Homo sapiens: one gene and its partners. The protein of the gene in region 1 purifies or fractionates together with the protein of each later gene. This does not show direct contact. Each region holds a gene or a part of one and is shown in the gene's direction. Other genes may lie near its edges.

Region 1 (8,188 bases):
GGAAGGGAAGAAGAGAGAGAGGGAGAGGAGAAAAAAACCAACCCAGCAGCATCGGAAATCGATGCACTTACACCTCAGCTGGAAGCAGGGACGGGAGTCGAACCGCGGCCACCGAGCAGCGCGAGGCGGGGAGGGGAGGGGGCGGCTCTTGGAAGGGACTTCTCCGATGTGTTGATTCCTCTTTTTTCCCCTCCTCCTCCCTCCCTCCAGCGCTCGCTCCGGGGCGTCAGGGACGGAGACGGAAAAAAATAAATAAATAAATTCACGGCGGTGAGGGAAGTGAAGGAAAATAATCAATGCTATTTGGCTGCGGCTGAAGTGTTTCCCCGGCTTCGTGAGGGGGTTTCCATTGATTCACCCTGGGCACTCGCTCGCTCCCTGCCTCCTCCTCCTCCTCCTCCTTCTCCTCCTCGCCCTCCTCCTCCTCCTCCTCCTCGCCCTCACTCCTCCGCCTCATTCACTGGCTGGAGTCTAGGCGTCCCACACAATGGAATAATCAATACCCAGGCGCCCGGGGCTGCCCCACTGAGCAGGTGCAGCGACCCGCCCGCCGCGGCGCATGCCGGGAGTTGTAGTCTGTTCGCGCCCGCCCGCCTGCCTCGCGGGACCCAGGGCCGGGGGCAGGCCGGCCAGCCCACCAGGTCGCCTCCAGGTTCAAGCCGGTGCCTGCAAAGAGGGCAGGCCCCTTTAAACTCTTTTCCGTCTCCTCTCCTCTTCATCCTGTGGCCTGCAGAAACCATACATGTGTTTTGTTGTTTTGTTTTAAATCAGCTTCAGAACAAGCCCTGAGCCGCCCAAGGCCTCCTTTTTTCATTCTCTTCTTCCTGCCTTATTATTCCGCCTCCCCCATCTCCCCCCGCGAAATTGGGTACTAGAACCTTCTCTACCGCAGCAATTACTCTTTAGTCTCTGAGAGCTTCTGCCTCCTCCACACGGTTACATAGTCCCCTGAGCTGGGTTGGGGGAGGTTCGGGCTCCTCCTCATCTTCAGTTTATCGCTTATTAAGTGCTCCTGAATTTTTTTTTTTTTTTTTTTTCTGGAGACGGAGTCTCACTCAGTCGCCCAGGTTGGAGTGCAGTGGTGCGATCTCGGCTCACTGCAACCTCCACCACCGGGTTCAAGCGATTCTCCTACCTCAGCCTCCTAAGTAGCTGGGATTACAGGCATGCATCAACACACCCAGCTAATTTTTGTATTTTTAGTAGAGACGGGGTTTCACCACGTTGGTCAAGCTGGTCTCGAACTCCTGACCTTGTGATCCGCCTGCCTCGGCCTCCCAAAGTGCTGGGATTACAGGTGTGAACCACCACCGCGCCCAGCCCGTTTTTTTGTTTGTTTGTTTTTTTCTTGAGACAGAGTCACTCTGTCGCCCAGGCTGCAGTGCAGTGGCATGATCCCGGCTCACTGCAACCTTCACCTCCCAGGTTCAAGTGATTCTCCTGCCTCAGCCTCCCAAGTAGCTGGGATTGTAGGTGCCCACCACCATGCCCTGCTAATTTTGTATTTTTAGTAGAGACGGGGGTTTCACCATCTTAGCCAGGCTGGTCTCGAACTCCTGACCTCAGGTGATCCACCGGCCTCAGCCTCCCAAAGTCCTGGGATTATAGGGGTGATCCACCTCACCCGGCCGCTCCTGTATTCTAATAATAATTTTTAAGATTTCTTGAATGCACAGGGACAGTTCCAAGCACTTTTACATACATTGTTTACTCCTCTCAATACCTCAAGCATGAGGTAGATGCTATTATAGTCTCATTTATTGAGGAAACTAAGGCACAAACAAGTGAATTAACAGGCCCAAGGTCCAATGGCCAATAAGTAAGTGACAGTGCCAGGACTCAAAAACCTCCATGGTCTGGCTCCAGGGCCCATACTAACTGCTATAGCCTACTTCTCTTAAACAACACAACAAAACCCTGAAGTTCACATGACAAAAAGGAGAGATAAATGAACATTTTGAGTTTATACTATGTGACAGTTTATGACTGAATCCTCACAGGTAACTGTGAGGCAGGCCACATTTTCTCAATGAAAAAGCAGAGGCTGGCCGGGCATGGTGGCTCACTCCTGTAATCCCAGCACTTTGGGAGGCTGAGGTGGGTAGATCACCTGAGGTCAGGAGTTCGAGACCAGCCTGACCAACATGGTGAAACCCTGTCTCTACTAAAAATACAAAATTAGCTGGGCGTGGTGGTGGGCACCTGTAATCCCAGCTACTCGGGAGGCTGAGGCAGAAGAATCGCTTGAACCCGGGGGGCAGAGGTTGCGGTGAGCCAAGATCACACCATTGCACTCCAGCCTGGGCAACAAGAGTGAAACTCCGTCTCAAAACCAAAAACAGGCCGGGCGTGGTGGCTCACACCTGTAATCCCAGCACTTTGGGAGGTGGAGGCGGGTGGATCACAAGATCAGGAGATCGAGACCATCCTGACTAACAGGGTAAAACCCCATCTCTACTAAAATTACAAAAAATTAGCCGGGCATGGTGGTGGGCACCTGTAGTCCCATCTACTTGGGAGGCTGAGGCAGGAGAATGGCATGAACCCTGGAGGCGGAGCTTGCAGTGAGCCGAGATGGCGCCACTACACTCCAGCCTGGGCGACAAAGCGAGACTCCGTCTCAAACAAACAAACAAACAAAAATTAGGAGGGTGGGGTGGCACGTGCCTGTAGTCCCAACTACTCAGGAGGCTGAGGCGGGAGAATCATTTGAACCCAGGAGGCAGAGGTTGCAGTGAGCTGAGACGCCAGAGTGAGACTCTGTCTCAAAAAAAAAAAAAAAAAAAAAAAAAAAGCAGATGCTTAGGAAAGTGGAGTAGCTTGCGGAAGGCCAAACATCTAGAAAGTGAAGCTGGGAGTCGACCTCAGGTCTGGCTCCGGAAACTGGTCTTTCTGTTCAAATAAGCTGCTGCTTTTGCCCCACTGGATTGGATCTTATAACATAAGGAAAAATTAGGTCTTCATCCCAGGTTAACAAAACCGGAAAGCAAAAGATGGATGAAAAGCAGGCTTTAGGAGCTGGGGTTTCTTCTCTCCCTAACCAACAGTGCTTAACATGGAGTGGGGACAGAGGTTGACCCAAGCTACTCCAAGTTCAAGATGCCATTTGTTTATTTATTTATGCACAGGGTCTTGCTCTGTTGCCGAGGCTGGAGTGCAGGCAGTAGCAGGATCGTAGCTCACTGCCCTTGACCTCCTGGGCTCAAGCTATCCCGCTGCCTCAACCTCCTGAGCAGCTGGGACCACAGGCATGCACTACCACACCCGGCTAATTAAAATTTTTTTTTTTTTTTTTTTGTAGAAACAGGGTCTTCCTATGTTGCCCAGGCTGGTCTCAAACTCCTGGCCTCAAATGATCCTCCTGCCTCGACCTCCCAAAGTGCTAGGATTACAAGTGTGAGTCAACACACCTGGCCAAAATGCCATGTCTTTAAACCAGTGTCCTTCTCCCTATAATACCTCTCACTGGTCATGTATTTCCAGAAACATACTGGTGAGAGGGCAGGTGTTGAGAACATGGCACTTCTCACCCATCATAGGAAGGAGTCCAGGAGTTAAGAGCCACGGTTCCTCAGGGAGCTTCCTCACATGGAAGGTCAGACATATAGTTAGAGTCTCCAGATAACCATAGTCCTCAGAGGGAGTAAGAAGGAATCATCTCTATTAATATTTTGTCTCCCAAAGCATTCAAAGGGCCAACCCCCATGTTTTCCTGAATTTTATTTTTTTGGGGACAGATGGAGTCTCGTTCTGTCGCCCAGGCTGGAGTGCAGTGGCGCCATCTCAGCTCACTGCAACCTCTGCCTCCCAGGTTCAAGCAATTCTCATGCCTCAGCCTCTGGAGTAGCTGGGAACACAAGCACGCGCCACCATGCCCGGCTCATTTTTGCATTTTTAGTAGAGACGGCGGGCCGGGGGGGTTTCTCCATGTTGGCCAGGCTGGTCTCGAACTCCTGACCTCAGGTGATTCACCTGCCTCGGCTTCCCAAAGTGCTGGGATTGCAGGTGTGAGCAACCGCACCGGCCTTTCTGTATTCTAAATGAACATAAGTAGTTCTACACCTGACAAAAACTGCTTAGGGACCGCTGGAAACTCTGACAAACTCCTCAGTCTAGCACTCAAGGCTTTTCCCTCAACTGCATTTCTAGCCTCGTCTTCTCCTTACGTACCACCCAGGTGCTCTCCAGTTTCTGGGCCTTTGCTTAGGCTATTCCTGTCTCCATCTAGGTCTCCAACTGTTGAAATACCATCATATCTTTAGTTCCTGGCCAAAATACCACTTTATTCTCTGACAGAAAGTTTCTCACCCACTCTTACCCTCAACGTTCATGCCAGGAGGTATTAGATCCCCTCTAAAACTCCAGAGTAGCTAAACTGGACTTTATTACGCGCTGCCCCCGCCCCCTTCCCTCCCCCCACCCCAACCCCCCTCGCCACCATTGCCACTGGCCTGCGCTTAGCTGGCTGCTATAGCAGATATCTGTTGGACGGTGTGAATGGCTTGTATTCCAGGCCCATCTGCCTGCGTTGGGGGTGCGGCGGGGGGTGTTGGAGACGGGACTGGGGCTTGAGCTCCTTGCACCCGACTCTCCCCGCCGCCTTGTAGCCCCAGTTCAGCTTTAGGTAGAGTACCGCAGGCACCAAGTGCAGCTTTCCTGTCGCCATAGCGACGGGCGGGGCGAGATGGCAAAGTCTCCCTTTGGAACTACATCTCCCATCATGCATCCGCGCCTCGGGGTGCCTGGCTCAGCCTCAGGCATGAGACCTGTACCAGCCCCCGGGAGCCGTGCGGGGCCAACAATGAGGAGCAGAATGCAAGGGGCGGCCTCGCTCCCCTGGCCACCGCGGGGGTCGCGGCCTCCCATTACATAGCGCGTGTCTCGAGCCCTGGCCTGCTCTCGGCACCGCCACAACGGGCGTAATATGGCCGCTGGTGCCGGGACCTGCCGGGCGCGCGGAGGGTCGGGCCGAGGTCCGGGATCCGGAACTGCTCCCGGCATTCCTCGCGAGTGTATGGCGTGGGCTCCCTTCCCCCTCTGTGGGTCCCGCGAGGAGACTCTCGGGCTTTGAGGTGAGACCTGAAGTTCCGCTGGCCGGTAGTGTAGCAGGAAAGGGCAGGTCCTCCCGGGTCGTGAGCCAGTAGCCTCCTGGGGTGGCAAGGTGTAGAGAGGGGGGCGTTGAAAGGACACCCGCTACCCGGCCTGCTTTCTAGGGGTCTCTTTGGATTGAGGACATCAGCAGCAGTGGAAGGGATTTTACTGGAGACCTGTCACTGTCAGAGCCTTAAAATATCACCGACGGGGCCTTAATGTCACCGAGGTAGAGAGAAAAGGGCAGTAGCCCTAGAGACTATTGCGACACAGTGTGCCCCTCATAAGTTTTTCCAGGGAGGGGTTCTGTACTGAGTTGACGCCCCAGGAGCTGAGCACCAGGCTTTGCATCCTTGGGAACTCAGCAAACGTTTGTTCAGCCAATTGCAGGTAGCATGGCCCAGGGCTTGATTGAGGTGGAGCGAAAGTTCCTTCCAGGGCCTGGCACAGAGGAGCGGCTGCAGGAGTTGGGGGGCACCCTGGAGTACCGGGTCACCTTCCGAGACACCTACTATGACACCCCTGAGCTGAGCCTCATGCAGGCTGACCACTGGCTGCGACGACGAGAGGATAGTGGATGGGAGCTCAAATGTCCTGGAGCAGCAGGTGTCTTAGGACCCCACACGGAGTATAAGGAACTCACAGCGGAACCTACAATTGTGGCCCAACTCTGTAAGGTGCTGCGGGCTGACGGCCTGGGGGCTGGAGATGTGGCTGCTGTGCTGGGCCCACTGGGGCTGCAGGAAGTAGCTAGTTTTGTGACTAAGCGGAGTGCCTGGAAGCTGGTGCTCTTGGGAGCTGATGAAGAGGAGCCACAGCTCAGGGTGGACTTGGATACAGCCGACTTTGGCTACGCTGTGGGTGAGGTAGAGGCCCTGGTGCATGAGGAGGCTGAAGTACCAACTGCCCTAGAGAAGATCCACAGGCTCAGCAGCATGCTTGGTGAGGGAGACAGGCCCTTTTGTGCTTTTCCTGCTCCCCACTTTTCTCTTTTGGAGGCACCTGCTGGACCATGCAGTGGGGGAGGGCCTCCGGATTAAAAATTTTTTTTTTAATAGAGACAAGGTTTTGCCGTGTTGCCCAGGCTGGTCTGGAACTCCTGGACTCAAGCAATTTGCCTGCCTCGGCCTTCCAAAGTGCTGGGATTACAGGTGTGAGCCTCTGTGCCTGGCCTGGATTATTTTTGTAATGGGAATTGTTTTAGCAATTTTCTAAGTTTGCTTACAGTTCTGTGAAATCTCGTTTTCTCTTTAACAGTAGCTAATTTGGATCTAGTCCTTCCACGTGTCTAATTCCAGCCAACCTGCCTCATTTAGTTCTCATACCTATAGCCAGATCTCCTTCAGTTTCATTTCTCAGTTCCCTGCTTTGACTCTTCCTTCCCCCAATCTCTTTTTTTTCTTCTTCTTCAGTCACCACTCCTCCACAAGGAGTAAAAAGTAAGCCTTTTTACAAAAGCTGCCCTCTGGGAGGCTCAGACCCAGGATCTTCAGATCATGAGACTGATGCACTGCCCACTACACTGAGAGTCCAACCAGTCTTGTCCTTTTGTTTTACAATTACCTAGATCCTTTTAATTTGTCCTTTTGGCTTTTTGTAAAGGACAATAACATTATAGTTATGTGAGACAGTGGGGCATGATTTGGCAGATTTGTTCCTAAGCATAATTCCCTTGTAGACAGTTCATCCACACTAGGAATTGTGCATCCCATGGGGCCTTACAGCCCTGCAGTGCTGTTTGAGCCCCCTCAGCAAACATACACTGAGTTCCTTGCTATGTGCCCAGCATGCTGCCAGGCACTAACAACAAGACACTGGCAACAGGCAGTTCCATTCTCACCTCACCATGTAGAGGCGAGAATTCTATGTGAATCCCACCCCATGGCTATAGCTTCCCTCCTCTTCTTTCTATAGCTCTTGGTTTCTATGTGTACATCTCTGCATGTGCTTCATTACTAAGCTAATGAGCTTTGGCCTGGTCTAGGGCTTTAATCTTGATTGCGGAACAGGGTAATAACTGAAATGAGCTGACGCTGAGGCATCCTTCGTTTATCTTGGTGCCTGGGTGCCTCTTCGCCATTTCTCCTTGCTGGAGGAGAGAGGCTGAGGTGTGGCTTCTAGTCCCACTCTTGCCTGAAGTTGCTCTTTTAGGTCCCACTTCCACAGGCAGGCAGGGAGTGGACTAGTGTGTTACAGAAGCTGGGTGGGTGACATTCAGAACCCCAGTGTGGCTTTGGAAACATCCACGGAGTCCTGGCTAGGTGGGCAGGGAGCAGAGTCCAAGTGCTTGTGGCTCTGTCCATTTCTCTCCTCATTGTCCTTTTACCTGTAGGTGTGCCTGCACAGGAGACAGCACCAGCCAAGCTGATTGTGTATCTACAGCGTTTCCGGCCTCAAGACTATCAGCGCCTGCTAGAAGTGAACAGCTCCAGAGAGAGGCCACAGGAGACTGAAGATCCTGACCACTGCCTGGGCTAGGGGTGTCACTTCCTAGAAGGGGAAGGGAACTCTGGGTCTAACGGAGTCCACTCCTGGGCCCACTGTGCCTCTCCCCTCAGTGTCCCTTCTGACAGTGACTCCTCTCTCTCCAGCGCTGCCTGTTTCTTCCCCCTCCTCTAAGCTACTCTTCCTTGAGCCCTCCCTGGCTGCTTCCTCTCGCTCATCCGTCAGATGCAATCTGTGGGCCGCCCCTCTCCCCTGGCCGCTAAGCAGCCTCCATTGATTTCCGCTCGTGTTTATAGGATTTCCACTTAGCCGTGATCAGTAGTTAAGCACAGGAAAATCCCTTGCCACCCCCCCTCCCTTGGTCGATGCCATTGATTCTGCCAGCGGCTCCTAAACCGCCTTACAGCTGAGTTAGAAGATGAGGAGAGGCAGCAGGGATTTCCCTGCCTTGGGATGTGGGAAACAGAAGAAAAGTTGAGGAAATGGTTGGGAATCGCTGTTAGAACTCTAGAAATTCTAATCTGACTTTGCCACTGTGCCCAGCTCTGGCCCAGAGGGTAGAGTGCCTCCTGTGGAAGTTTAGGGGCAAATTTGTTCCCTGACCTGGAGAGGGTTAGAAAGAACCAACAGCTGCCCCCTCCCCGCCCCCGTG
Region 2 (7,446 bases), on another chromosome or scaffold:
TCGTGGTGTAGCTGGGACCACAGGCACCCACACACCACACCCGGCTAATTTTTAAATTTTTTTTTTGTAGATATGGGTTCTTACCATGTTGCCCATGCTGGTGTCAAACTCCTGGGCTCAAGCGATCCTCCCACCTCAGCCTCCCGAGTAGCTGGGACCACAGAAGGTCCATCCCACACCCCCACCCCACCGTCAAGCTCTCGCTTTAGGGCCCAGGCTGGAGTGCAGTGGTACAATCTCAGCTCCCAGGCTGGAGTGCAGTGGTACAATCTCAGCTCACTGCAACCTCCACCTCCCAGGTTCAAGCAATTCTCCTACCTCAGCCTCTGGAGTAGCTGGGACTACAGGTGTGTGCCACCACGCCCGGCTAATTTTTGCACATTTAGTAGAGTCAGTGTTTCTCCATGTTGGCCAGGCTGGTCTCAAATGCCTGACCTCAGGTGATCCACCCACCTCGGCCTCCCAAAGTGCTGGAATGACAGGCGTGAGCCACCGTGCCTGATCTCAGACACCTTTTGGTGCTTCTTGTTTGAGATGGGGTCTCACTCTGTCACCCAGGCTGGAGCACAGTGCTGCAATCTAAGCTCACTGCAGCCTCCACCTCCTGGGCTCAGGTGATCCTCCCACCTCAGCGTCCCGAGCAGCTGGGACCACAGGCACCCACCACCACACCAGGCTAATTTTTCTTTCTTTCTTTCTTTTTTTTTTTTTTTGTAGATAATAGGGTCTTACCATATTGCCCATGCTGGCGTCAAACTCCTGGGCTCAAGCAATCCTCCCACCTCAGCGTCCCGAGCAGCTGGGACCACAGGCACCCACCACCACACCAGGCTAATTTTTCTTTCTTTTTTTTTTTTTTTTTTTTTTTTTGTAGATAATAGGGTCTTACCATATTGCCCATGCTGGCGTCAAACTCCTGGGCTCAAGCAATCCTCCCACCTCAGCGTCCCGAGCAGCTGGGACCACAGGCACCCACCACCACGCCCGGCTTTTCTTTTTTTTTTTTTTTTTTGTAGATAATGGGGTCTTACCATATTGCCCATGCTGGTGTCAAACTCCTGGGCTCAAGCAATCCTCCCACCTCAGCGTCCCGAGCAGCTGGGACCACAGGCACCCACCACCACACCAGGCTAATTTTTCTTTCTTTTTTTTTTTTTTTTTTTTTTGTAGATAATAGGGTCTTACCATATTGCCCATGCTGGCGTCAAACTCCTGGGCTCAAGCAATCCTCCCACCTCAGCGTCCCGAGCAGCTGGGACCACAGGCACCCACCACCACACCAGGCTAATTTTTCTTTCTTTTTTTTTTTTTTTTTTTTTGTAGATAATAGGGTCTTACCATATTGCCCATGCTGGTGTCAAACTCCTGGGCTCAAGCAATCCTCCCACCTCAGCGTCCCGAGCAGCTGGGACCACAGGCACCCACCACCACGCCCGGCTTTTCTTTTTTTTTTTTTTTTGTAGATAATGGGGTCTTACCATATTGCCCATGCTGGTGTCAAACTCCTGGGCTCAAGCAATCCTCCCACCTCAGCGTCCCGAGCAGCTGGGACCACAGGCACCCACCACCACGCCCGGCTTTTCTTTTTTTTTTTTTTTTGTAGATAATGGGGTCTTACCATATTGCCCATGCTGGTGTCAAACTCCTGGGCTCAAGCAATCCTCCCACCTCAGCGTCCCGAGCAGCTGGGACCACAGGCACCCACCACCACGCCCGGCTTTTCTTTTTTTTTTTTTTTTTTGTAGATAATGGGGTCTTACCATATTGCCCATGCTGGTGTCAAACTCCTGGGCTCAAGCAATCCTCCCACCTCAGCGTCCCGAGCAGCTGGGACCACAGGCACCCACCACCACGCCCGGCTAATTTTTCTTTTCTTTTTTTTTTTTTTTTTTTGTAGATAATGGGGTCTTACCATATTGCCCATGCTGGTGTCAAACTCCTGGGCTCAAGCAATCCTCCCACCTCAGCGTCCCGAGTAGCTGGGACCACAGGCACCCACCACCATGCCACACTAAAATTTTTTTTTTGGGGGGGAGGGTAGAGAAGGGGTCTTACCATGTTGCCCAGGCTGGTGTCAAACTCCTGGGCTCAAGCGATCCTCCCACCTCAGCCTCCCGACATGTAAACGGTGGCTACATTTCCGCACAATCCCCGCGGTCTCCCTCATTCTGTTTTACAACTACTCCCACATAAAGTAACGTAGAAAGACGAGCCCCGTTATTCCCTTAGAAGGTAGACTGGAGCTTGCAGGAAGCTGTAGGATAAACATTCAGAGGCCAACTGAGATAAAACGAAACACCCAGGTGATTTTAAGCTAATCAAGAGCCCCTTTCACGTGGGTGATTTTAAACTAATCAAGAGCCTCTTTCACGCAGGTGATTTTAAACTAATCACGTTCTCCCTTCACAGAACTAAAAAGGGAGGTTAATTTACACAAACGCGCAGGCTACAGCCACCCGTCCTGCCTAGGGACTTCGGGCCAAAAATGCCACCTGTCACACCTCCAATCCAGGCGCTGCAGGGCTGTTAGGAGGGGAATTAGCAGCTGGGATACCCCGATCCTACAAGGAGGGGGGTTAGCAACCCCTCCTGAAATACCAAAAAGGCCTCGGCTTCCTGCAGACGCTTAAGGAACATGCCAATCACAACCGATTTCCTGAAAAACGCAAGAAATCCTGGTGAGGGCTGGGGTTGCAGGACGCTCTGCACACCACGGGTAACAGTTTTGGGGTAGCTTCTCTGAGACCGGCTGCCTCTTACTGTCCCCTGGACCAGGGGGGCGCCGCTCTCATCCTCCTGGCATCTCCCAGGCCCCTGCCCCACTCAGAGCTCCACCGCAGGGGCTCCCGAGGCTGGACTCAGACCCGCTGGATCCCATCCAGGCCCCCAAGGCAGCAGTGGAGACCCTCAAGGCTGGACTCCAGCCCCTAATGTAGACTCAGGGACCCCTGGGATGGATGGGTTCGAACCCCCAAAGCTGACTTCAGGACCCTCAGAGCTGGACTCCACCCTCCAAGGCAGCATTCGGGACCCTCACGGCTGGACTCGAGGCCCACGGCAGACATGAAGACCCCTGGGAGGCGTCCGGGACCCCCAGGACTGAATTTGAGGCCCCCAGGCAGACGTGGGGGCCCCTGGGCGGTGGTCAGGACGCCTGGGGCTGGACCCAACCCCCAAGGCAGACGAGGAGAACCCCCGGGCGGCATCCGGGCCCCCCAGGGCTGGACTCAAGCCCCCAAGGCTAGACGTGGGGACCCACCTGGGCGGCGACCGGGACCCCCAGAGCAGGTCTCAAGCCCCAAAGGCAGACGTGGGGGCTCCTCGGCGACGTCCAGGACCCCCAGGGCTGGACTCAAGCCCCCAAGGCTAGACACGGTGACTCCGGGGTGGCGTCCGAGACTCCCACGGGGGAACTCCAGTCTCCAAGGTAGACGTGAGGACCCCCGGGCGGCATCGGGGACCCCCAGGGCGGGACTCGAGCCCCCAAGGCAGACGCGGGGATGCCGAGGCGGCGTCCAGGACCCCCAGGGCGGGACTCGGGCCCCCAAGGCAGACGCGGGGACGCCGAGGCGGCGTCCAGGACCCCCATGGCTGGACTCGAGCCCCCAAAGCAGACATGGGGACCCCCTGGGTGGCGTCCGGGACCCTGAGAGCTGGACTCGAGCCCCCAGGGCAGACGTGGGGACTCCGGGGCAGCTTCCGGGGCCCCCACGGCGGCTCTCCAGGTTCCAGGGCAGACGTGGAGACCCCTGGGCGACGTCACGGACGCCCAGGGCGGGACTCGAGCCCCCAAGGCAGACGTAGGGACCCCTGGGCGCCGTTCTCGATCCCCGGGGCTGGAGTCAAGCCCCCGAGGCGGCGTTCCGGACTCTCGCAATCAGACTTGGACTCCACCCAGCGCGGAACGGGGTAGGACGGGAGCGAGGACGAGGTGAGTGAAGGCAGCGCTGCCGCCGCCGCCGCCGCCGCCGAGGCTCGGGGTCCTGGCGCCTACCGGGCCGGCGGCTGCACCGCGGGATGGGTCTGCCAGGAGCCGCCCACGCCGAACAAGAAGCGGCCCGGTCCCGCCTCCCCCGCCGGCAGCGCGTGCCAATCACCAGCACCTGATGCGGGGCGACCAATGAGGAGCACGCCCTGCCGGGGCGCGGCGCTAGGGAGCCCGCCCCGGCCGCACGCCAATCACCAGCACGTGACAAGGGATGACCAATGAGGATCACGCCCTATGCTGCGGAGAGGCGCTGGTGAGCACGCCCCAGCTGCACGCCAATCACTAGCACGTGACGCCGGATGACCAATGAGGAGCACGGCCTGTGCCGGGGAGAGGCGCTGGTGAGCCAGCCCCGGCCGCACGCCAATCACGAGCACGTGATGAGGAGCGGCCTGTGGGCAGCCCCCGCCCCAACGTTCAGCCTCCAGACGCGCCATGTGGGCCCTGCGGGCCGCCGTACGCCCGGGGCTGCGGCTCTCCCGCGTGGGCCGCGGCCGCTCGGCTCCGCGGGCAGCCGCGCCGTCCTGCCCCGCGCGCGCGCTAGCCGCTGTCGGCCGCAGGAGCCCCGGGAATCTGGAGGGGCCGTGGGGCGGAGGGCGGGGCCTGCGGGCGGACGGCGGCCGAAGCCGCACGGGAGACGACGAGGAGGAGCCGGAAGATGCGGACGAGAACGCCGAGGAGGAGCTGCTGCGGGGAGAGCCTCTGCTGCCGGCGGGGACCCAGCGCGTGTGTCTGGTTCACCCTGACGTCAAGTGGGGCCCGGGGAAGTCGCAGATGACTCGAGGTGACCGCGGCAGGGCTTTCGGGGGAGAAACAGGAGCTGGAGACCTGGGGGCGGGGCTCTGAGGGGAGGGGGCTCATAGGTGGAGATTCAGGGGCGGGGCTCTGAAGGGACGATCTCATAGGTGGAGATTCAGGGGCGGGGTTCTGTGGGGAGAATCTCATAGGTGGAGGCGCAAGGGCGGGGCTCTGCAGGAAGGATTTCATAGGTGGAGATTCAGGGGCGGGACTCGGGAGAATCATAGCTGGCGATGCAAGGGCGGGGCTCTGGGGAGGCTCATAGGTAGAGATTCAGGGACGGGGCTCTGACCTGAGAATCTCATAGGTGGAGACCCAGGGCGGGGCTTTGAGGGGAAGAGCTCAGGTGGCGACGTAGGGGCGGGGCTTCAGGGGGCCAGGCTCTAAGGAGAGGGTCTGATGGTTGGAGATGCCAGGGCGTGGCGCTGAGGGGCGGGGCTCTGAGGGGAAGAGCTTATGGATGGTGATGCGGGGGCGGGGCTCTGAAGGGAGGATCTCATAGGTGGAGGTGCATGGGTGGGGTTCGGGGGAGGAGCCCATGGGTGAAAGGGCGGGGCTTATGGGGAAGAGGGGAGGATATCATTGGTGGAGGTGCGTGGGCGGGGCTTCGGGGGAGGGGCCTATGGGGTAAAAGTGCGGGGGCGGAGCTTATGGGGTGGAGTCCGTGGGATGGGGTGGGGCCCGTGGGGTCCGTGGGGTGGGGTGGGGTGGGGTGGGGTGGGGTGGGGTTGGGTGGGCCGGGGCGGTTCTCGCCGATGGGACCTACGTTTCTCTTGCTCTGGGTTAGAGGTAGGCACGGTGTGTTTGAGGTCAGGGAAGGGAGGGCGTCCAGCGGACCAATCTGTGTCTAGTCCCACCCCCCACCCCCCAGGAGGAAATGCAAATGAATAAGTCGCTGCACGTGTCAGAGTCTCATAAAGGTTGATTTTTCCCTTGGAAGCTCCTGTAGTCGATGAGTGGTTTTTCTTTACGGGTGTTTTCCAAAATGGCTAATTCCTGGAACAGATGAAGCCCCGAACTGCTCAGAACAGCGCGCAGACCTCTTGCCTCTCTACTCCCCAAACCTGCCGGTGGTTCCTCAGTAATCCCCTGAGCACCCGCAGCTCCCGGGTTCCCTGCTGCGCCCGCCTGGAGCCCAAATTCCATGTAAGGCAGGGTCGCCCTCGTGTCCCGCTGTGGCTCCGGTGTCCTTCTCCCGTCAGATTCCTACTTAGAGGCCCTGGGGGGACGAAGTCATATCGGGGGACAAACGGCGGCTCAAGGTGCCTTCTCCGGGGAGATTGTCTCAAGGGCAGGAGGAGGCCTCCCCGGGCAGGTGTGGACGGGGGCCCCGGGCAGAAGCGTCTCTCACGGTGGCCCTTGTGTCCCCGCAGCCGAGTGGCAGGTGGCGGAGGCCACAGCGCTGGTGCACACGCTGGACGGCTGGTCCGTGGTGCAGACAATGGTCGTGTCCACCAAAACGCCGGACAGGAAGCTCATCTTTGGCAAAGGGAACTTTGAGCACCTGACAGGTGGGTCCGTCCAGACCTGCTCCTTCCCCAAACCTCCTTTCCTGTCCGCCGCTACCGAAAACATCCAACCGAGACATGCTGAAGTACGGGGGTCTTGCGGGGCCAGAGGGGAAGCGGCCTCTCGGATTGCCCAGGTGAGCTGGGAGCACACGCCAGTAGGAGTCGGAGGACGGTGAGGCTTTATCTGTGTCGAGATTCACACCGGGCCCTGGAGAGACTTAAACTGGTAAAGATTAGGTCGGGGCAGTTTATAGAGTCCAACAAACAGGGTAGGCGGTGGACCGGCTGTAACCCCACCTGCCCCTGCAGGCCCCAGCCAAATCCTCCTCCTGGGTGACCCCCACCCCACCAGCAGTCTCTTAGGGTGGGGTCCAGCATGCGATCCTTGCGCTTCCCAGGTTTCTGACCATCCCGCTTCCAGTAGAGTTGGGAAGACGCTACTCACTTGCCCAGGTGGGGGTCGGCTGCCCTGGGTCACCTGCCCAGGTGGGGGTCAGCTTTCCTGCCTGACTCAGATGCATCTCACCCCTGCTGGGATGTGTTCACCCTGTGTGTGTGTGTGTGTGTGTGTGTCCCCAATGGGATGTGTCCACGGTGCATGTGTGTGTGTGTCTGTCCCTGTCGGGATGTATTTACTGTGTGTGTGTCTGTGTGTGTGTCTGCGTGTGTATGTGTTTGTGTCCCTGCTGGGATGTGTTTACTGTGTTTGTGTGTGTCTCTGTGTATGTGTCTGTGTGTGTGTCTGTCCCTGTCGGGATGTATTTACTGTGTGTGTGTGTGTGTGTGTCTGCGTGTGTATGTGTTTGTGTCCCTGCCGGGATGTGTTTACTGTGTTTGTGTGTGTCTCTGTGTATGTGTCTGTGTGTGTGTCTGTCCCTGTCGGGATGTATTTACTGTGTGTGTGTGTGTGTGTCTGCGTGTGTATGTGTTTGTGTCCCTGCCGGGATGTGTTTACTGTGTTTGTGTGTGTCTCTGTGTATGTGTCTGTGTGTGTGTCTGTCCCTGTCGGGATGTATTTACTGTGTGTGTGTGTGTGTGTCTGCATGTGTATGTGTTTGTGTCCCTGCCGGGATGTGTTTACTGTGTGTGTGTGTGTGTGTCTGCGTGTGTATGTGTTTGTGTCCCTGCTGGGATGTGTTTACTGTGTTT
Region 3 (7,446 bases), on another chromosome or scaffold:
AACTCCTGACCTCAGGTGATCCGCCAACTTTGGCTTCCCAAAGTGCTGGGATTACAGGCATGAACCACCATGCCCAGCCTCAACAGGGAGTTTAATTAGGAAGGAAATACCCAACGCCTCCCCTTTGTACCCTATAATGCTGGTGCCTTTCACTGGCCAATTCCAACCAGAAGTTGAAAGGTAAGGGAGCTGAACTGCATTATCTGTAGGATGCAGAGAAAAGCGGATAATAGATCTGGGAGGGCCTTTCATGGTGGCTCACACCTGTAATCCCAGCACTTTGGGAGGCTAAGGCGGGTGGATGGCTTGAGCCTAGGAGTTGAAGACCAGCCTGGGCAACATGGTGAAACCCCATCTCTACAAAAAATTGGCTGGGCATGGTGGTGCCTGACTGTAGCCCTGGCTAGCAGGGAGGCTGAGGTGGGAGGTTTACCTGAGCCTGGGAAGTTGAGGCTCCAGTGAGCCATGATCCTGCCACTTCACTACAGCCTGGGTGACACAGTGAGACCCTGTCTCAAAAAATAAAAATAAAACTAAAGATAGATCTGGGAGCCAAACAGAGTAAGAAACACATTGTTTACCATGTAAACAGGGTCTATATAGAAGTAGGGCCAGGAGCTGTGGCCCACATCTGTAATCCCAGCACTTTGGGAGGCTGAGGCAGGAAGATTGCTTAAAGCTATGAGCTTGAGACCAGCCTGGGCAACAAAGCGAGACCCAATCTCTATAAAAAATAAAAAGGCTGGGCATGGTGCCTCCCGCCTATAATCCCAGCACTTTGGGAGGCCAAGGTGGGAGGATTGTTTGAGCCCAGGAGTTTTGAGACCAGCCCGGGCAACATAGAGAGACCCGTCTCTATTAAAAATAAAGAAAGGAAATTAGCCTGGTGTGCTGGTACACACCTGTGGTCCCAGCTGCACAGGAAGGTGAGGTGGGAGGATCCCATGAGCCCAAGACTTCGAGGCAGCAGTGAGCTATGATAGCGCCACTTCACTCCAGCCTGGGCAACAGAGTGAGACCCCATCTCTTAAAAAAAATTATTTTTTAATAAAAATAAAGTCAGTGAAACCTCAGCTGAAATTGCAATAAAATTTCAATTTCGGCCTTATTTGACATCCATTTTCATTTACTTGAGAAGTTATCTATGCCATGTATTGTGTATCTCAGTAGATGTGACATACTAACAGTAAGAGCAATTGCATTGTACGCTCTTCTCTAACAACACTGACTGCAGAGACATGTAGTGTATTTTTTTCATCATCTGTTGAATTACAAAGCATGGAGACAGATGAAACATGATTCTATTGATTATATGAGTAGAACTCTCACATAATCTGGTTGTCTACTTTTCTGGGTGGTGGTGTTTGTTTGTTTGTTTGTTTGTTTTTGAGATGGAGTCTCGCTCTGTTGCCAGGCTGGAGTGCTGTGGCGCGATCTCGGCTCACTGCAACCTCTGACTCCCTGGTTCAAACAATTCTCCTGCTTCAGCCTCCTGAGTAGCTGGGATTACAGGCACGTGCCGCCACGCCCAGATAATTTTTGAATTTGTTAGTAGAGACAGAGTTTTACCATGTTGGCCAGGCTGGTCTCAGTCTCCTGAACTCATGATCCGCCCACCTCAGCCTCACACCCGGCTTTTTTTTTTTTTTGAGATGGAGTCTCACTTTGTCACCCAGGCTGGAATGCAGTGGCACAGTCTTGGCTCATGGCAACCTCCGCCTCCAGGGTTCAAGCAATTCTCCTGCCTCAGCCTCCTGAGTAGCTGGGATTACAGGCGCCCACCACTAGGCCCAGCTAATATTTTGTGTTGTTTTTGTTTTTGTTTTGAGACAAGAGTCTCTGTCTCTTGCCCAAGCTGGAGTGCAATGGTGCGATCTCGACTCACTGCAACCTCTGCCTCCCAGTTTCAAGCAATTCTCCTGCCTCAGCCTCCCGAGTAGCTGGGATTACAGATGCCCATCACTGTACCCAGCTAAATTTGTATTTTTAGTAGAGACGGGGTTTCGCCATGTTGGCCAGGCTGGTTTCGAACTCCTGACCTCAGGTGATCTGCCTGTCTCAGCCTCCCAAAGTGTTGGGATTACAGGCGTGAGCCACTGCACCTGGCCTAATATTTTGTATTTTTAGTAGAGATGGGGTTTCACCATGTTGGCCAGGCTGGCCTTTAACTCCTGACCTCATGATTCGCCCACCCCAGCCTTCCAAAGTGCTGGGATTACAGGCGTGAGCCACTGCACCCGGCCCATTTTTGTTTGTTGTTTGAAGTATGCGAGTATAATTAAAGGAATATTGATGGTAGAAATGGGAGAAGAAGTTTGTCACATAAATCATGTAAGAGTTCCTGTTGGGATAACAATAAAAGATTTATATTCCATAATTAACCTAAATAATTTTTATTTTTTTTAAATTAGGTTGTTGCTTGTGAACTTGACCCAAGGCTAGTAGCTGAACTTCACAAAAGAGTTCAGGGCACGTGAGTATACATAATAGAATTAAAGTGCATTTCAATCTCATGAAACAACATTCTTTTTACATTTCTTCTTTTCTCATCAGGCCTGTGGCCAGCAAACTTCAAGTACTGGTGGGTGATGTGCTGAAAACAGATTTGCCATTCTTTGATACTTGTGTGGCAAATTTGCCTTATCAGGTATGTCCTCACATTTTCAGGAACATCATACTAACTGTTCCTCTGATGTGTCTTTCCCGGAAATAACTAGTTAATTCTCTTACAGATCTCTTCACCTTTTGTCTTCAAGCTGTTGCTACATCGACCTTTTTTCAGGTTTGTGACAAAAGACTAGAGTTACTGCCAAATTTTGAAAGACTTACAGTTCAGGTGGTGAACATAGCCAAAAATGAGTCAGGTCAGTTGAAAAACTACTGAAGAATTTTTGTAGAAAATGTTGATTTGTATGGAGGTCTTTCTCTCTTTAATTGAGAGGTTATTTGGGGGTAGTGTGCTGGAAGTCCTGCTTCTGAGACCAGACAGCCTTTCCCTATTTTTGAATCTTCCTGCCGTTAAGTCTAGGTTAGAATTTTTATTACCTTATGTCTAGACAATTGCAGTGGTTTCCTAACTGGTCTCTAGTATAAGAGGTCTTCAAAAAGTTCATGGAAAATGTGTATTATGAAAAAAACTTGCATGGATTTCAAAATTTTTTTGCACCAAAATAAACTCTGTACTAACTGAGCAGGATCTAGTGTGAGGCACTGAGAAGGATAAGACATCAGTTTGAAAAGAGCCCCTATCAGAGCAACATGAACTCTGCTAAAATTCAAGTAAGAACAAACATCCAATTTATGGTGAAACCTGGTTGGAAGAATGGTGAAATCATTGATGCTTTACAAAAAGTTTATGGAGTCACACCTGTAATCCCAGCACTTTGGGAGGCCAAGGCAGGCGGATCATGAGGTCAGGAGATCGAGACCATCCTGGCTAACATGGTGAAACCCCACATCTACTAAAAATACAAAAAACTAGCCGGGCGTAGTGGCGGGCGCCTGTAGTCCCAGCCACTCGGGAGGCTGAGGCAGGAGAATGGCGTGAACCCGGGAGGCGGAGCTTGCAGTGAGCCGAGATCGCGCCACTGCACTCCAGCCTTGGCGACTGAGCGAGACTCCGTCTCAAAAAAAAAAAAAAGTTTATGGGGACAATATCCCAAAGAAATCAGCAGTTTACTAATGGATAACTCATTTTAAGAAGGGCTGAGACAATGTTGAAGATGAAGCCTACAGTGGCACACTGGCCATATCAATTTGTGGGAAAACATTCATCTTGTTTGTTCCCTAAGTGACGAGGAACAACATTCAACAGCACAAACAATAGCCAACACCATAGACATCACAGTTGGTTTAGCTTACACAATTCTGACTGCAAAATCAAAGTTAAACAAACTTTGTACTTGATAGATGCCAAAACTGTCATACCCTCTTTTCTGAAAGATTTTATGAAAAAACAAAACAAAAAACATTGTACTCAAATCAGCTGCAGATAAAAGCAGAGCTTCCAGTGGAAATTTTACATAACTGGGATCAAGATCCTGAAACATGGCTGGGTGGAGTGGCTCACACCTATAATCCTAGCACTCTGGGAGGCCGAGGCGGGCAGATCACTTGAGGTCAGGAGACCAGCCTGGCTAACATGGTGAAACCCCATCTCTACTAAAAATAAAAAAATTAGCTGGGCATTGTGGTGGGCACCTATAATCCCAGCTACTCGGGAGGCTGAGGCAGGGGAATCGCTTGAACTCAGGAGGCGGAGGTTGTAGTGAGCCAAGATTGTGCCACTGCACTCCACACTCCAGCCTGGGCAACAGAGCGAGATTGTCAAAAAAGAAAACAAGATCCTGAAACATTTCTTCAAAGAATTACAAAGAATTGTAATGGAGATGAAATATGGCTTTACCAGTGTGATCCTAAAGACAAAGCAGAGTGAAAGTGATGCCTACCAAGAAACGGAGTGGCTCCAGTCAAAGCAAAAGCAGACCAGTCAAGAGCAAAGGTCATAGCAACAGTTTTTTTTTGAATGCTCAGGGCATTTTGCTTGCTGACTTTCTTTAGGACCAAAGAATGAAAACATCTGCTTATTACAAGAGTGTTTTGAGAAAGTTAGCTAAGATGTAGCAGAGTAACTCCTGGGAAAGCTTCCCCAGAGATTCCTCCACCATAATACTTCTACTCCTTCCTCTCATCAGACGAGGGCAATTTTTCGAGAGTTTCAATGGGAAATGGTTAGGTATCCACCTTACAGTCCTGATTGGGCCCCTTCTGACTTCTTTTTATTTTATGAGACAGTCTTGCTCTGGTGCCCGGGCTGGAGAGCAGTGGTATGATCTGCACTCACTGCAGCCTCCACTTCCTGGGCTCAAGCATTCCTCCCACCTCAGCCTCCCAAGTAGCTGCGATTACGGGCATGTGCCACCACACCCAGCTAATTGTTGTATTTTTTTTAGAGATGGGTCTTGCCATGTTGCCCAGGCTGTCTCCCCCTCCTGAGCTCAAGTGATCTGCCCACCTCAGCCTCCCCAAATGCTGGGATTATTACAGGCATGAACCATGGTGCCCAGCCCTTCTGATTTATTTTCGTTTCCCAGTCTTAAAAAATCTTGAAAGGGCACTCTTTTTTCTTCAGTTAATAATGTAAAAAAAAAAAACCTGCAGTGACATGGCTAAATTCCCCAGAGCCTCAGTTTTTTTGATATAGACTAAAATGCTGGTATCATCACTTACAAAAGTGTCTTGAACTTGATGGAGCTTATGTTGAATAATAAAGTTTATGTTTTTTCTTTTTTTTCTTTTTCTGAGACAGGCTGGAGTACAGTGGTGACATCTCAGGTCACTGCAACCTCAGCCTCCCTGGGCTGGGCTCAGATGATTCTCCTACCTCAGCCTCTTGAGTAGCTGGGACTATGGGGGTGTACCAGCATGCCTAGCTAATTTTTGTGTTTTTTTTAGAGAAGGGGTCTCACCATGTTCAGCCCAGGCTGGTCTTGAACTCCTGAGCTCAAGCGATCTGTCCGCCTTGGCCTCCTAAAGTGCTGTGGATTATAGGTGTGTGCCGCCACACCAGCCTTATTTTATCTTTTAATTCAATATTTCCATGAACTTTGAAGTCACTTTCTATATTATATACTAGTGGCTTTCAAACTGCAAGTCAAAAACTAGTGGTTATAAAATTAATGAGTCATGACCATTCTTTTTTTTTGTAATCACATGGAATAGAATATATCACAGGGCATTGCATGTAGTCCAGGTGATTATGGTTTCATGAAACTTTTGTTTTGAAATACAATATAAACACATATACATACAGACATTTGTGGCTTGGCTTGCAATGCCAAATGTATTTTTAGTGTGACTCATTGTCAAAAGTTTGAATGTCAAAGTGTAGCTTTGAAGATACTCTTCTGTTCGTTAACCCCTACAAAGTCTTCCCCATTGCCTGCTGAATAAAAAGTCTACATCTTTTGGCTGGGTGTGGTGACTCATGCCTGTAATCCCAGCACTTTGGGAGGCTGAGGTGGGCGGATCACCTGAGGTCAGGAGTTCCAGACCAGCCTGGCCAACATGGTGAAACACTGTCTCTACTAAAAATAGAAAAATTGGCCAGGGGTGGTAGTGTGCGCCTGTAATCCCAGCTACTCGGGAGGCTGAGGAACGAGGATCACTTGAACCTGGGAGACGGAAGTTGTAGTGAGCCGAGATTGCGCCATTGCACTCCAGCCTGGGCGACAAGAGCGAAACTCCGTCTCAAAAAAAAAAAAAAAGTCTACATCTTTTAACCCGTCAAATCAAGGAAACATTGAACGTCACAATCTGCCTCTTCAGTCTCACCTCTTCCTTAAAGGTGTTTGCTACCCCATAAATATATTACTGCTACTGAAACAATTTTATTTCACTTTGTTTTCATAGAAGAGGTGATGGACTAGTGCTGATTTGAAACATCTCATCCAGTCATTAAAGGCTTATATTTGCAAGCTATCTTGCCATGAGGAGTACAGCAATTATAAAAACAAAGCCAGCTCTCTCATTCTGTGGCAATAAAAAAAAGGCTGAATGTGTTCTCCTACCTTATAATCAGCTGCCAATGCTTTGCTATTTCTCTCCCAAGAAAATTCATTGCAGTTAAAATTCATTTATAGTTGACAATGACCATTTTCCTTATTCCTTTCTGCTTTCTTTTCAGGTGTGCTATACTTATGTTTCAAAGAGAATTTGCCCTCCGACTGGTTGCAAAACCTGGAGATAAGTTATACTGCAGACTCTCAATTAATACACAGCTGTTGGCACGTGTGGACCATCTAATGAAAGTAAGTGAATTTTGTTTTCTTTCTCTTTTTTCTGAGATAGAATCTCACTCTGTCACCCAGGCTGCAGTGCAGTGGCTCACTGCGATCTCTGCCTCCCATACTCAAGCAATCTTCTCGAGTCCCGAGTAGCTGGGACTAGAGGTGTGCGTCACCACGCCTGACTAATTTTTTGGTATTTTTTGTAGACACAGAGTTTTGCTATGTTGCCCAGGTTGGTCTTGAACTCCTGGGCTCAATGATCCATCTGCCTTGGCCTCCCAAAGTGTTGGGATTACAGGTGTGAGCCAAAGCACCCAGCCAGTGATTTTTATTATTGAAATAATCTAGCTTAATTCATCCTTGAGCATCCAGTTGTGCCTTCTGTGAGGATAGCATATCTGGTTACTAAATAAAAGTTGCCTTTGTGAGTACTACTTAAATACTTTTTCATTAACAGGTGGGAAAGAATAACTTCAGACCACCGCCCAAGGTGGAATCCAGTGTTGTAAGGATAGAACCTAAGAATCCACCACCACCCATCAATTTTCAGGTGAGGTTAAAATACTAGCTCATTCAATAAAGGAAAAAAAAGTCCAGGCGGGAAGATGTGTGCCTATAACAGCAGAAAAATATTGAATCAACCTAAATATTCAAACAT
Region 4 (7,070 bases), on another chromosome or scaffold:
TGTGAACTTTGTGTCTCTAAATATCAGTCTCTTCTTCTCCGTTGCCACTGCCTCAAGTCAAGCCCCTTTGATATTATTCACCTTGACCCATGCATTTAGTTCTTAATTGGTCTGCCTGTCTCATGTCTGTCTGTGACTATCACCAAAATATCATTATCTTCCTCTTTACTTCTGGAATGGATCATTGAGAACAGTGCCCAACAAATAGATATTAAGTTCTTAAATATTTATTGAATGATTAAAGATAAGGCTAATGTTTTTACTCCCTTGCTTAAAATCCTCCGGTGGTTCCCTAGTCTTATTTAGATGTCTCCCCCTTTGCTGCTCCCTTAGCTCCATGTACATACACTGGACTATAAATGCTAGTTTGCTAATCTGTCATCTGTCATCACACAATAGACTGTAAGTTGCTTGGCAAAGATGATGTCTATTCATCATTAAATCCCTAGTATGTAACACACAGAGGTTTAGTAAATGTTGAAAAAAATCCTAGGGAGTCCGTGTTAATCTAGAAAACATCTTCAAGCTTCAGAACAAACTTGGAATTCATAATACTGATACTGTCATGGATTGATAGAAACAAGTGCTTCTTGAAGGCAGGGTTCCAAAACACCATGAGAAATTGTGCCCTCACTTAATGGTACATTTTCTGGTGGTACAAATTAACAATAAAAGTTATAATTTATTTTTAATGTATTTGTAGTGTGAACTGAATGTTACTGAGGATGCTTTGAAAGCTATAGCCAGATTGGCACTAGAACGAAAAACAGGTGCACGAGGCCTTCGGTCCATAATGGTGAGTTGGCATTATTCTATAAAAACAATTATTTCTTGGTCTGAGTTTTGAGTATATTAAGCTTCCCTGTTTTTCTTTTGGAAAATATGTATATATATTTTGAGACAGAGTCTCAAATAAAGGAGTGCAGTGGTGCGATCTTGGCTCACTGCAATCTCCACCTCCCAGGCTGAGGCTCAAGCAGTCTTCCCACCTTAGCCTCCCAAGTAGCTGGAACTATAGGCAAGAACCACCACACCTGGCTAATTTTTGTATTTTTAGTGGAGATGGGGTTTCACCATGTTGGCCAGTCTGGTCTCAAACTCCTAACCTCAGGTGATCTGCCTGCCTCAGCCTCCCAAAGTGCTGGGATTACAGGCGTGAGCCACCACGCCTGGCCTGAATTTTTTTTTTTTTTTAGTCACAGTAGATTATATTTTGCTTTTTCTCAAAAAGGAACTTCAAGGTGTTTGCAACAAAGGACATAGACATAATATGATTAATGACACAGAAAATCGGGATCGGGCCTGGTAACTCACACCTATAAATCCCAACACTTTGGAAGGCCAAGGCAGGAGGATTGCTTGAGCCCAGGAGTTTGAGACCAGCCTGGGCAACATACACCCTCATCTCTCAAAACAAACAAACAAACAAACAAACAAAAAAAAAGAGGCTGGGCATGGTGGCTCATGCCCATAATCCTAGCACTTTGGGAGGCTGAGGCAGGCGGATTGCCTGAGCTCAGGAGTTCAAGACCAGCCTGGACAACATGGCGAAACCCCATCTCTACTAAAAATACAAAAAATTGGCCAGATTTGGTGGCTTACGCCTGTAATCACAGCTATAATCCCAAATATATATATATATATGTTTATATATATAATCCCATATATATGTTTATATATATATATATATTTGTTTTGTTTGTTTCTTTTTCCTTGAGTGAATGGATTCCAATTTGTGATTTATAGAATAAAAGCACTTGTATGTAATCTGTTTTCAATGTGATTCATTACTTTTTATTTCTTTAGGAAAAGCTGTTACTAGAACCAATGTTTGAAGTCCCTAATTCTGATATCGTATGTGTGGAGGTTGACAAAGAAGTAGTAGAAGGAAAAAAGGAACCAGGATACATCCGGTAAAGTGTATTTTCAAGCCAGAACAGATACAAAATTTAAGATGAGCTCCTCATTGCTATGTTTATTGGTTTGTCATTTTAAAATTACATAAAAATTATTATATTTCTAAGGGAAGCAATAATCTCAAGTTTTCTGTAGAAAAATCTAATTTGGGTATTATAAAATAATAGTATTTTGTGAGTCTTTGAAAGTTGATCATCAGGCCGGGTGTGGTGGCTCACACCTGTAATCCCAGCACTTCAGGAGGCCGAGGTGGGCGGATCACGAGGTCAAGAGATAGAGACCATCCTGGCCAACATGGTGAAACTCTGTCTCTACTAAAAATACAAAAATTAGCTGGGCGTGGTGGTGTGCGTCTGTAGTCCCAGCTACTCGGGAGGCTGAGGCAGGAGAATCACTTGAACCTAGGAGGCGGAGGTTGCAATGAGCCAAGATCGCACCACTGCACTCCAGCCTGGGCGACAAAGTGAGACTCAGTCTCAAAAAATATATAAAAAAAGGCAATGGGGCTGGATTTGGCTAGCAAGCTACAGTTTCCTAACCCCTGATTTATTCAATAAATGTTTACTATGCAATGCTTGACATTAATGTTACCTACACAAAAGCTAGGTTTCTGTTTAACTCAAATCATAAGGTATGTTATGTTTTATGTTTGCTTGTGTTCCAAGATAACTTTAGAGGCAGTTGATGTGTTTTGAACAACCTTAGTTATCCAGAGAGATATAATCTTTTATTTTTATTGTTTAATGACATTGACGTATGGCTTTTAAAGGAATTGTGGTGACCTGAATTATCATTTTTACTAGTTCGAGACAAGACGGATGTGATCAGAAATAGCTTCTTTACCATATACATATGCTAAGTTCCAGCATTTGAGTTGAAATAACAGATGATACTTTCTTGGAGAAGAGGATTTTTTAAGCCTTCACAATTGAAGCCATATTGTCCTTTTTTTTTTTTTTTTTTTTTTTTCTCCCAGTAATAAATTTGTCAGGGAAAATGCTGGGAAGTTTATTTGCAACTCTTGGTTGTATAGTCTGTTTCCCATATTACTAAGCAATCTTTTTTTTTTTTTTTTTTTTTTGAGACTCAGTCTTGCTCTGTCGCCCAGACTGGAGTGCAGTGGTATGATTTCGGCTTACTGCAACCTCCACTTCCTGGGTTCAAGCGATTCCCTTGCCTCAGCCTCCTGAGTAGCTGGGACTACAGGTGTGTGCCACCACACCCGGCTAATTTTTGTATTTTTAGTAGAGATGGGGTTTCAACATGTTGGCCAGGCAGGTCTCGAACTCCTGACCTCAAGTGATCAGCCCTCCTCGGCCTTCCAAAATGCTGGGATTACAGATGTGAGCCACTGTGTCCGGCCTAAGCCGTCTTAATATTAAAAGTGCTCCTAATATTTTCTATTATCGTGGCTTTCTTAGCTAGGAGAGGTTACTTTGCTGTTTTGATTTTAAAGATCATGTTTACCTCCATTTTTTATTTTAAAAAAACAAACATGGCTTTTCATTGTAGGGCTCCAACAAAAGAATCCTCTGAAGAGGAGTATGACTCTGGAGTTGAAGAAGAAGGATGGCCCCGCCAAGCAGATGCTGCAAACAGCTAAACTGTCATATTGCTGTCTTGTATATACAGCTTTTCCTTCTTTTGTTTAGGATCATAATTGTCTCTACAGTCTGATATTAAAGGCATTGGATCTATCTTGGATATCATACATGGTCAGAGAAGCCTTTAGGAGAAGAATCAGATCATGTATATAATTGTAACATCACATTGATTTTACGGAAGATGTTATATGGACTTTAATGACACAATGTTTAGAGATAAAATGTACATTATTTTGGTTCAGTTTTTTAAAAAAAATATGCTTTAACAAAATTCTTAGGAATTCTTTTAAGCAATGCAGGTATTGCGATAACTGTAGATTTTACAATAATGTTACTCTACAAATGGGAAAATAAATTCTTTAAAATTGAATATTGAGATACCATTCTTTAGTGTTACCTTTTTTACCCACATGTGTTTCTGAAAATATTGGAATTTTATTCATCTTAAAAATTGGACCAGGTAGGCCGGGCGTGGTGGCTCACGCCTGTAATCCCAGCACTTTGGGAGGCCAAGGCGGGTGGATCACGAGGTCAGGAGTTCAAGACCAGCCTGGCCAAGATGGTGAAACCCCATCTCTACTAAAAATATGAAAAATTAGCTGGGTGCCGTGGCAGGTGCCTGTAATCCCAGCTACTCGGGAGGCTGAGGCAGGAGAATCGCTTGAACTCGGAGGGCAGAGTTTACAGTGAGCTGAGGTTGTGCCACTGCACTCCAGCCTGGGCGACAAAGTGAGACTCCGTCTCAGGGCGAAAACAAAAAATTGGACCAGGTAGTTTTCAAGTAGTTAAACATTTCATTGAAAAATACCCTGAAGAACTATATTTTGATAATTGGTTTAGCTGTATTCCTAGTCTTATCTGCTAATGCATGACACTAACTTCCCAATTGGTTCTGTAAAAAAGGCCATTTTCTTACCAAGTTGTCTGATTTATTTACCATCTTTTTTTTTTTTTTTTTTTTAATTGAGCGGAGTCTCACGCTGTCCCAAGCTGAAGTGCAGTGGTGCGATCTTGGCTCACTGCAACCTCCGCCTCCCAGGTTCAAGCAATTTTCCTGCCTCAGCCTTCCAAGTAGCTGGGATTATAGGCACGCACCACCACACCTGGCTAATTTTTGTATTTTTAGTAGAGACAGGGTTTCACCCTGTTGGCCAGGCTAGTCTGTAACTCCTGACCTTGTGATCTGCTGGCCTCAGCCTCCCAAAGTGCTGGGATTGCAGGCGTAAGCCACCACACCCGGCCTTATTTACCATCTTTAATCCATTTTAGTACTATGGGTGAGTACATGGAATTGAAGTCTGGCTTAAATCTTCAGAAAGTTATATATCTATTTTATTTTATTTTTTTGAGACAGAGTCTCGCTGTGTCACCCAGGCTGGAGTACAGTGCCACAATCTTGGCTCACTGCAACCTCTGAGTCCCAGGTTCAAGCGATACTCATGCCTCAGCCTCCTGAGTAGCTGGGACTACAGGCGTGCACCACCACACCTGGCTAATTTTTTGTATTTTTAGTAGAGACGGGGTTTCGCCATGTTGCCCAGGCTGGTCTCTCCTGAGCTCAGGCAATCGGCCACCTTGGCCTCTGAAAGTGCTAGAATTACGGGCATGAGCCACCGCATCCAGCCAGAAAGATACATATCTAATTCTAGAAATAGCATGCAGTATCAGTCATAGTAACAGCCATGTGCTGACCTAAATAAAATTTCTTGATATTGTGTATTTAACCTGAAGTATTGAGCTAGTTTTTTTGTTTTGTTTTTTGGTGCTGAACATTTTGGTCTAATTCTTTGGCTTCTTAGAACATTTTAAAAAATCTATGTTTTGCTATCAGCCAAAGTAAATGTGTTCACACTAACATATAAGTTACTAACCTTCATTATACAGCAAAGCTAAAAAGTGGTGGGATATTTGGGGTCTTAATGAAAATTGTATCATTTAATTCCATAAATATTAAAATATTTGGGTACCTTTTAAGCTTTTTTTCTTTCCTTCTATAATGGTGGTACAAGTTCTATATTCATTCAGTTTAATCTCATTTGAAATTGTTTAAATCAGAGTACATGTAAATATTTGTGGGTTTTTTTTTTTGGTTTATAGACTCGAGCTTTCCTTTTACACAGTTTTTTTTAGGGAAAAACTAAAGCTATTAGGAAATTCTAAATCTTGTTGATGAAGAGTTGGGCTTTCTTTGATATAATTAATAAAAGGGATGTATGGTATTTATGGCTGGGTAGGACCAGAAATGCACTTTGTATTACAGAGTGTTAAGGCTGGTTGCTATAGTATGGAACAGAAACACCTCTCCTTGGTCTCCCTAGTAATGGTTCAAGTTCTTCCCAGGAAGTCTTACATATTATAACTTTGTTCATTATCTTTCCCTTATAGCATCATTTTCCTTTTTGTAGAGTGGAAATCAGACTAGCTGCTAAACATATTAAGGTTAATCCTCCAGAAATGTACTGGGGAGGCATTTTAGTCACAACAACTTACATTTGGCTTTGGAAGTTGTTAACAAAGCATAGTCGATGTTTTTAAATCAAACATAATTTGTATCTTGGAACTTACATTTTGACATTTGAATAAAACAAAAAGACTAAATGAAAGCCAACGTGGTGGTGTGTCCATACAGCAATGGTGCAGGAGCACTCTGCATTGACAACAACAAGCACAGCCAAACAGTGCCATTTTTAAAAGGGCACAGATGTCATATGAGCTGCTTCATTCTAGGGATTGATTAATCCTTGGCACTTCCATATCAGATAAATTCTAGCTGTAGATTCCACAGACAATGTCTGTTAAACATTTATCAAAAATCCTTACTTAAATGTCCCGCTTGACACTAGGGACACAGGCCAAGTTTTTCAGGAATCTTACTAGTCTTGTAGGGGAAACAAATACAAACTAAAGTGTATTTTAATAGTGGAAGTGAGATAGGTACCAGGTGTGGTGACATAGAAAGTGATGGCCTAGATAAGTCTGGAAGAACAAGTAGAAATTTGCCAGAAAAGAATAATGAGAACTAAATCAAAATCTCAGAAGTGTAAAACAACAACTAGGAAGCTGTAGGAGGTAAGAAATAAGCAACAACTGTAACTTCTTGTTAATACTCTGAAATGACCATTTAATATTCTCCTCTCCATCTAGCTAAGGATCTTGCTTCACATTTCATTGAAAAACCATTGATGGAATTCATCATCCCACCATCTATAAATCTATCTACTCCATCACTCAACCTTTCTCTCTAGTTACAACTGAAGTATCCCTCCTACAAAACTCAGTCACTCCCCACATGCTCTGGGTCTCATCATCCCCTCTCATTTCTCAAGGCCTTTAATTCTTTTGATCATGTCTCTACTATAGTATCTGTGTCCTTCCTTCTGAATTATTCCCAGTGGCATCCAAACACTGCTTAGTATTTCCTGTCCTATAGCAAATCTCCCAAGCTTATTTACGTATCTTTCCAACTACACCATAAGTTCCACAAAGATGGTGACCCAGCCTGTTTTGTTAACTATAACCAGCACCTACCATAGTGCTACATACATCTGG

The links.
Region 2: the proteins of THTPA (region 1) and GTPBP6 purify together in Homo sapiens (affinity purification with mass spectrometry; 2 studies listed by BioGRID and IntAct, with this or other methods). This does not show direct contact.
Region 3: the proteins of THTPA (region 1) and DIMT1 purify together in Homo sapiens (affinity purification with mass spectrometry; 2 studies listed by BioGRID and IntAct, with this or other methods). This does not show direct contact.
Region 4: the proteins of THTPA (region 1) and CLPX purify together in Homo sapiens (affinity purification with mass spectrometry; 3 studies listed by BioGRID and IntAct, with this or other methods). This does not show direct contact.

Annotation. Positions count from the first base shown.
Region 1 is NC_000014.9:23,551,272-23,559,459, forward strand, and holds the start of THTPA (thiamine-triphosphatase), read left to right. Parts: upstream 1-4,999; 5' UTR 5,000-5,486; coding exon 5,487-6,033; intron 6,034-7,423; coding exon 7,424-7,569; 3' UTR 7,570-8,188. UniProt on the Homo sapiens protein: Hydrolase highly specific for thiamine triphosphate (ThTP).
Region 2 is NC_000023.11:315,765-323,210, reverse strand, and holds the start of GTPBP6 (putative GTP-binding protein 6), read left to right. Parts: upstream 1-4,414; 5' UTR 4,415-4,423; coding exon 4,424-4,772; intron 4,773-5,726; exon of another isoform or gene 5,727-5,932; intron 5,933-6,159; coding exon 6,160-6,297; intron 6,298-6,305; exon of another isoform or gene 6,306-6,431; intron 6,432-7,446.
Region 3 is NC_000005.10:62,393,847-62,401,292, reverse strand, and holds part of DIMT1 (dimethyladenosine transferase), read left to right. Parts: intron 1-2,411; coding exon 2,412-2,473; intron 2,474-2,553; coding exon 2,554-2,647; intron 2,648-2,732; coding exon 2,733-2,782; exon of another isoform or gene 2,783-2,864; intron 2,865-6,685; coding exon 6,686-6,809; intron 6,810-7,245; coding exon 7,246-7,338; intron 7,339-7,446. UniProt on the Homo sapiens protein: Specifically dimethylates two adjacent adenosines in the loop of a conserved hairpin near the 3'-end of 18S rRNA in the 40S particle.
Region 4 is NC_000015.10:65,147,273-65,154,342, reverse strand, and holds the end of CLPX (ATP-dependent clpX-like chaperone, mitochondrial precursor), read left to right. Parts: intron 1-703; coding exon 704-796; intron 797-1,806; coding exon 1,807-1,913; intron 1,914-3,429; coding exon 3,430-3,520; 3' UTR 3,521-6,124; downstream 6,125-7,070. UniProt on the Homo sapiens protein: ATP-dependent chaperone that functions as an unfoldase.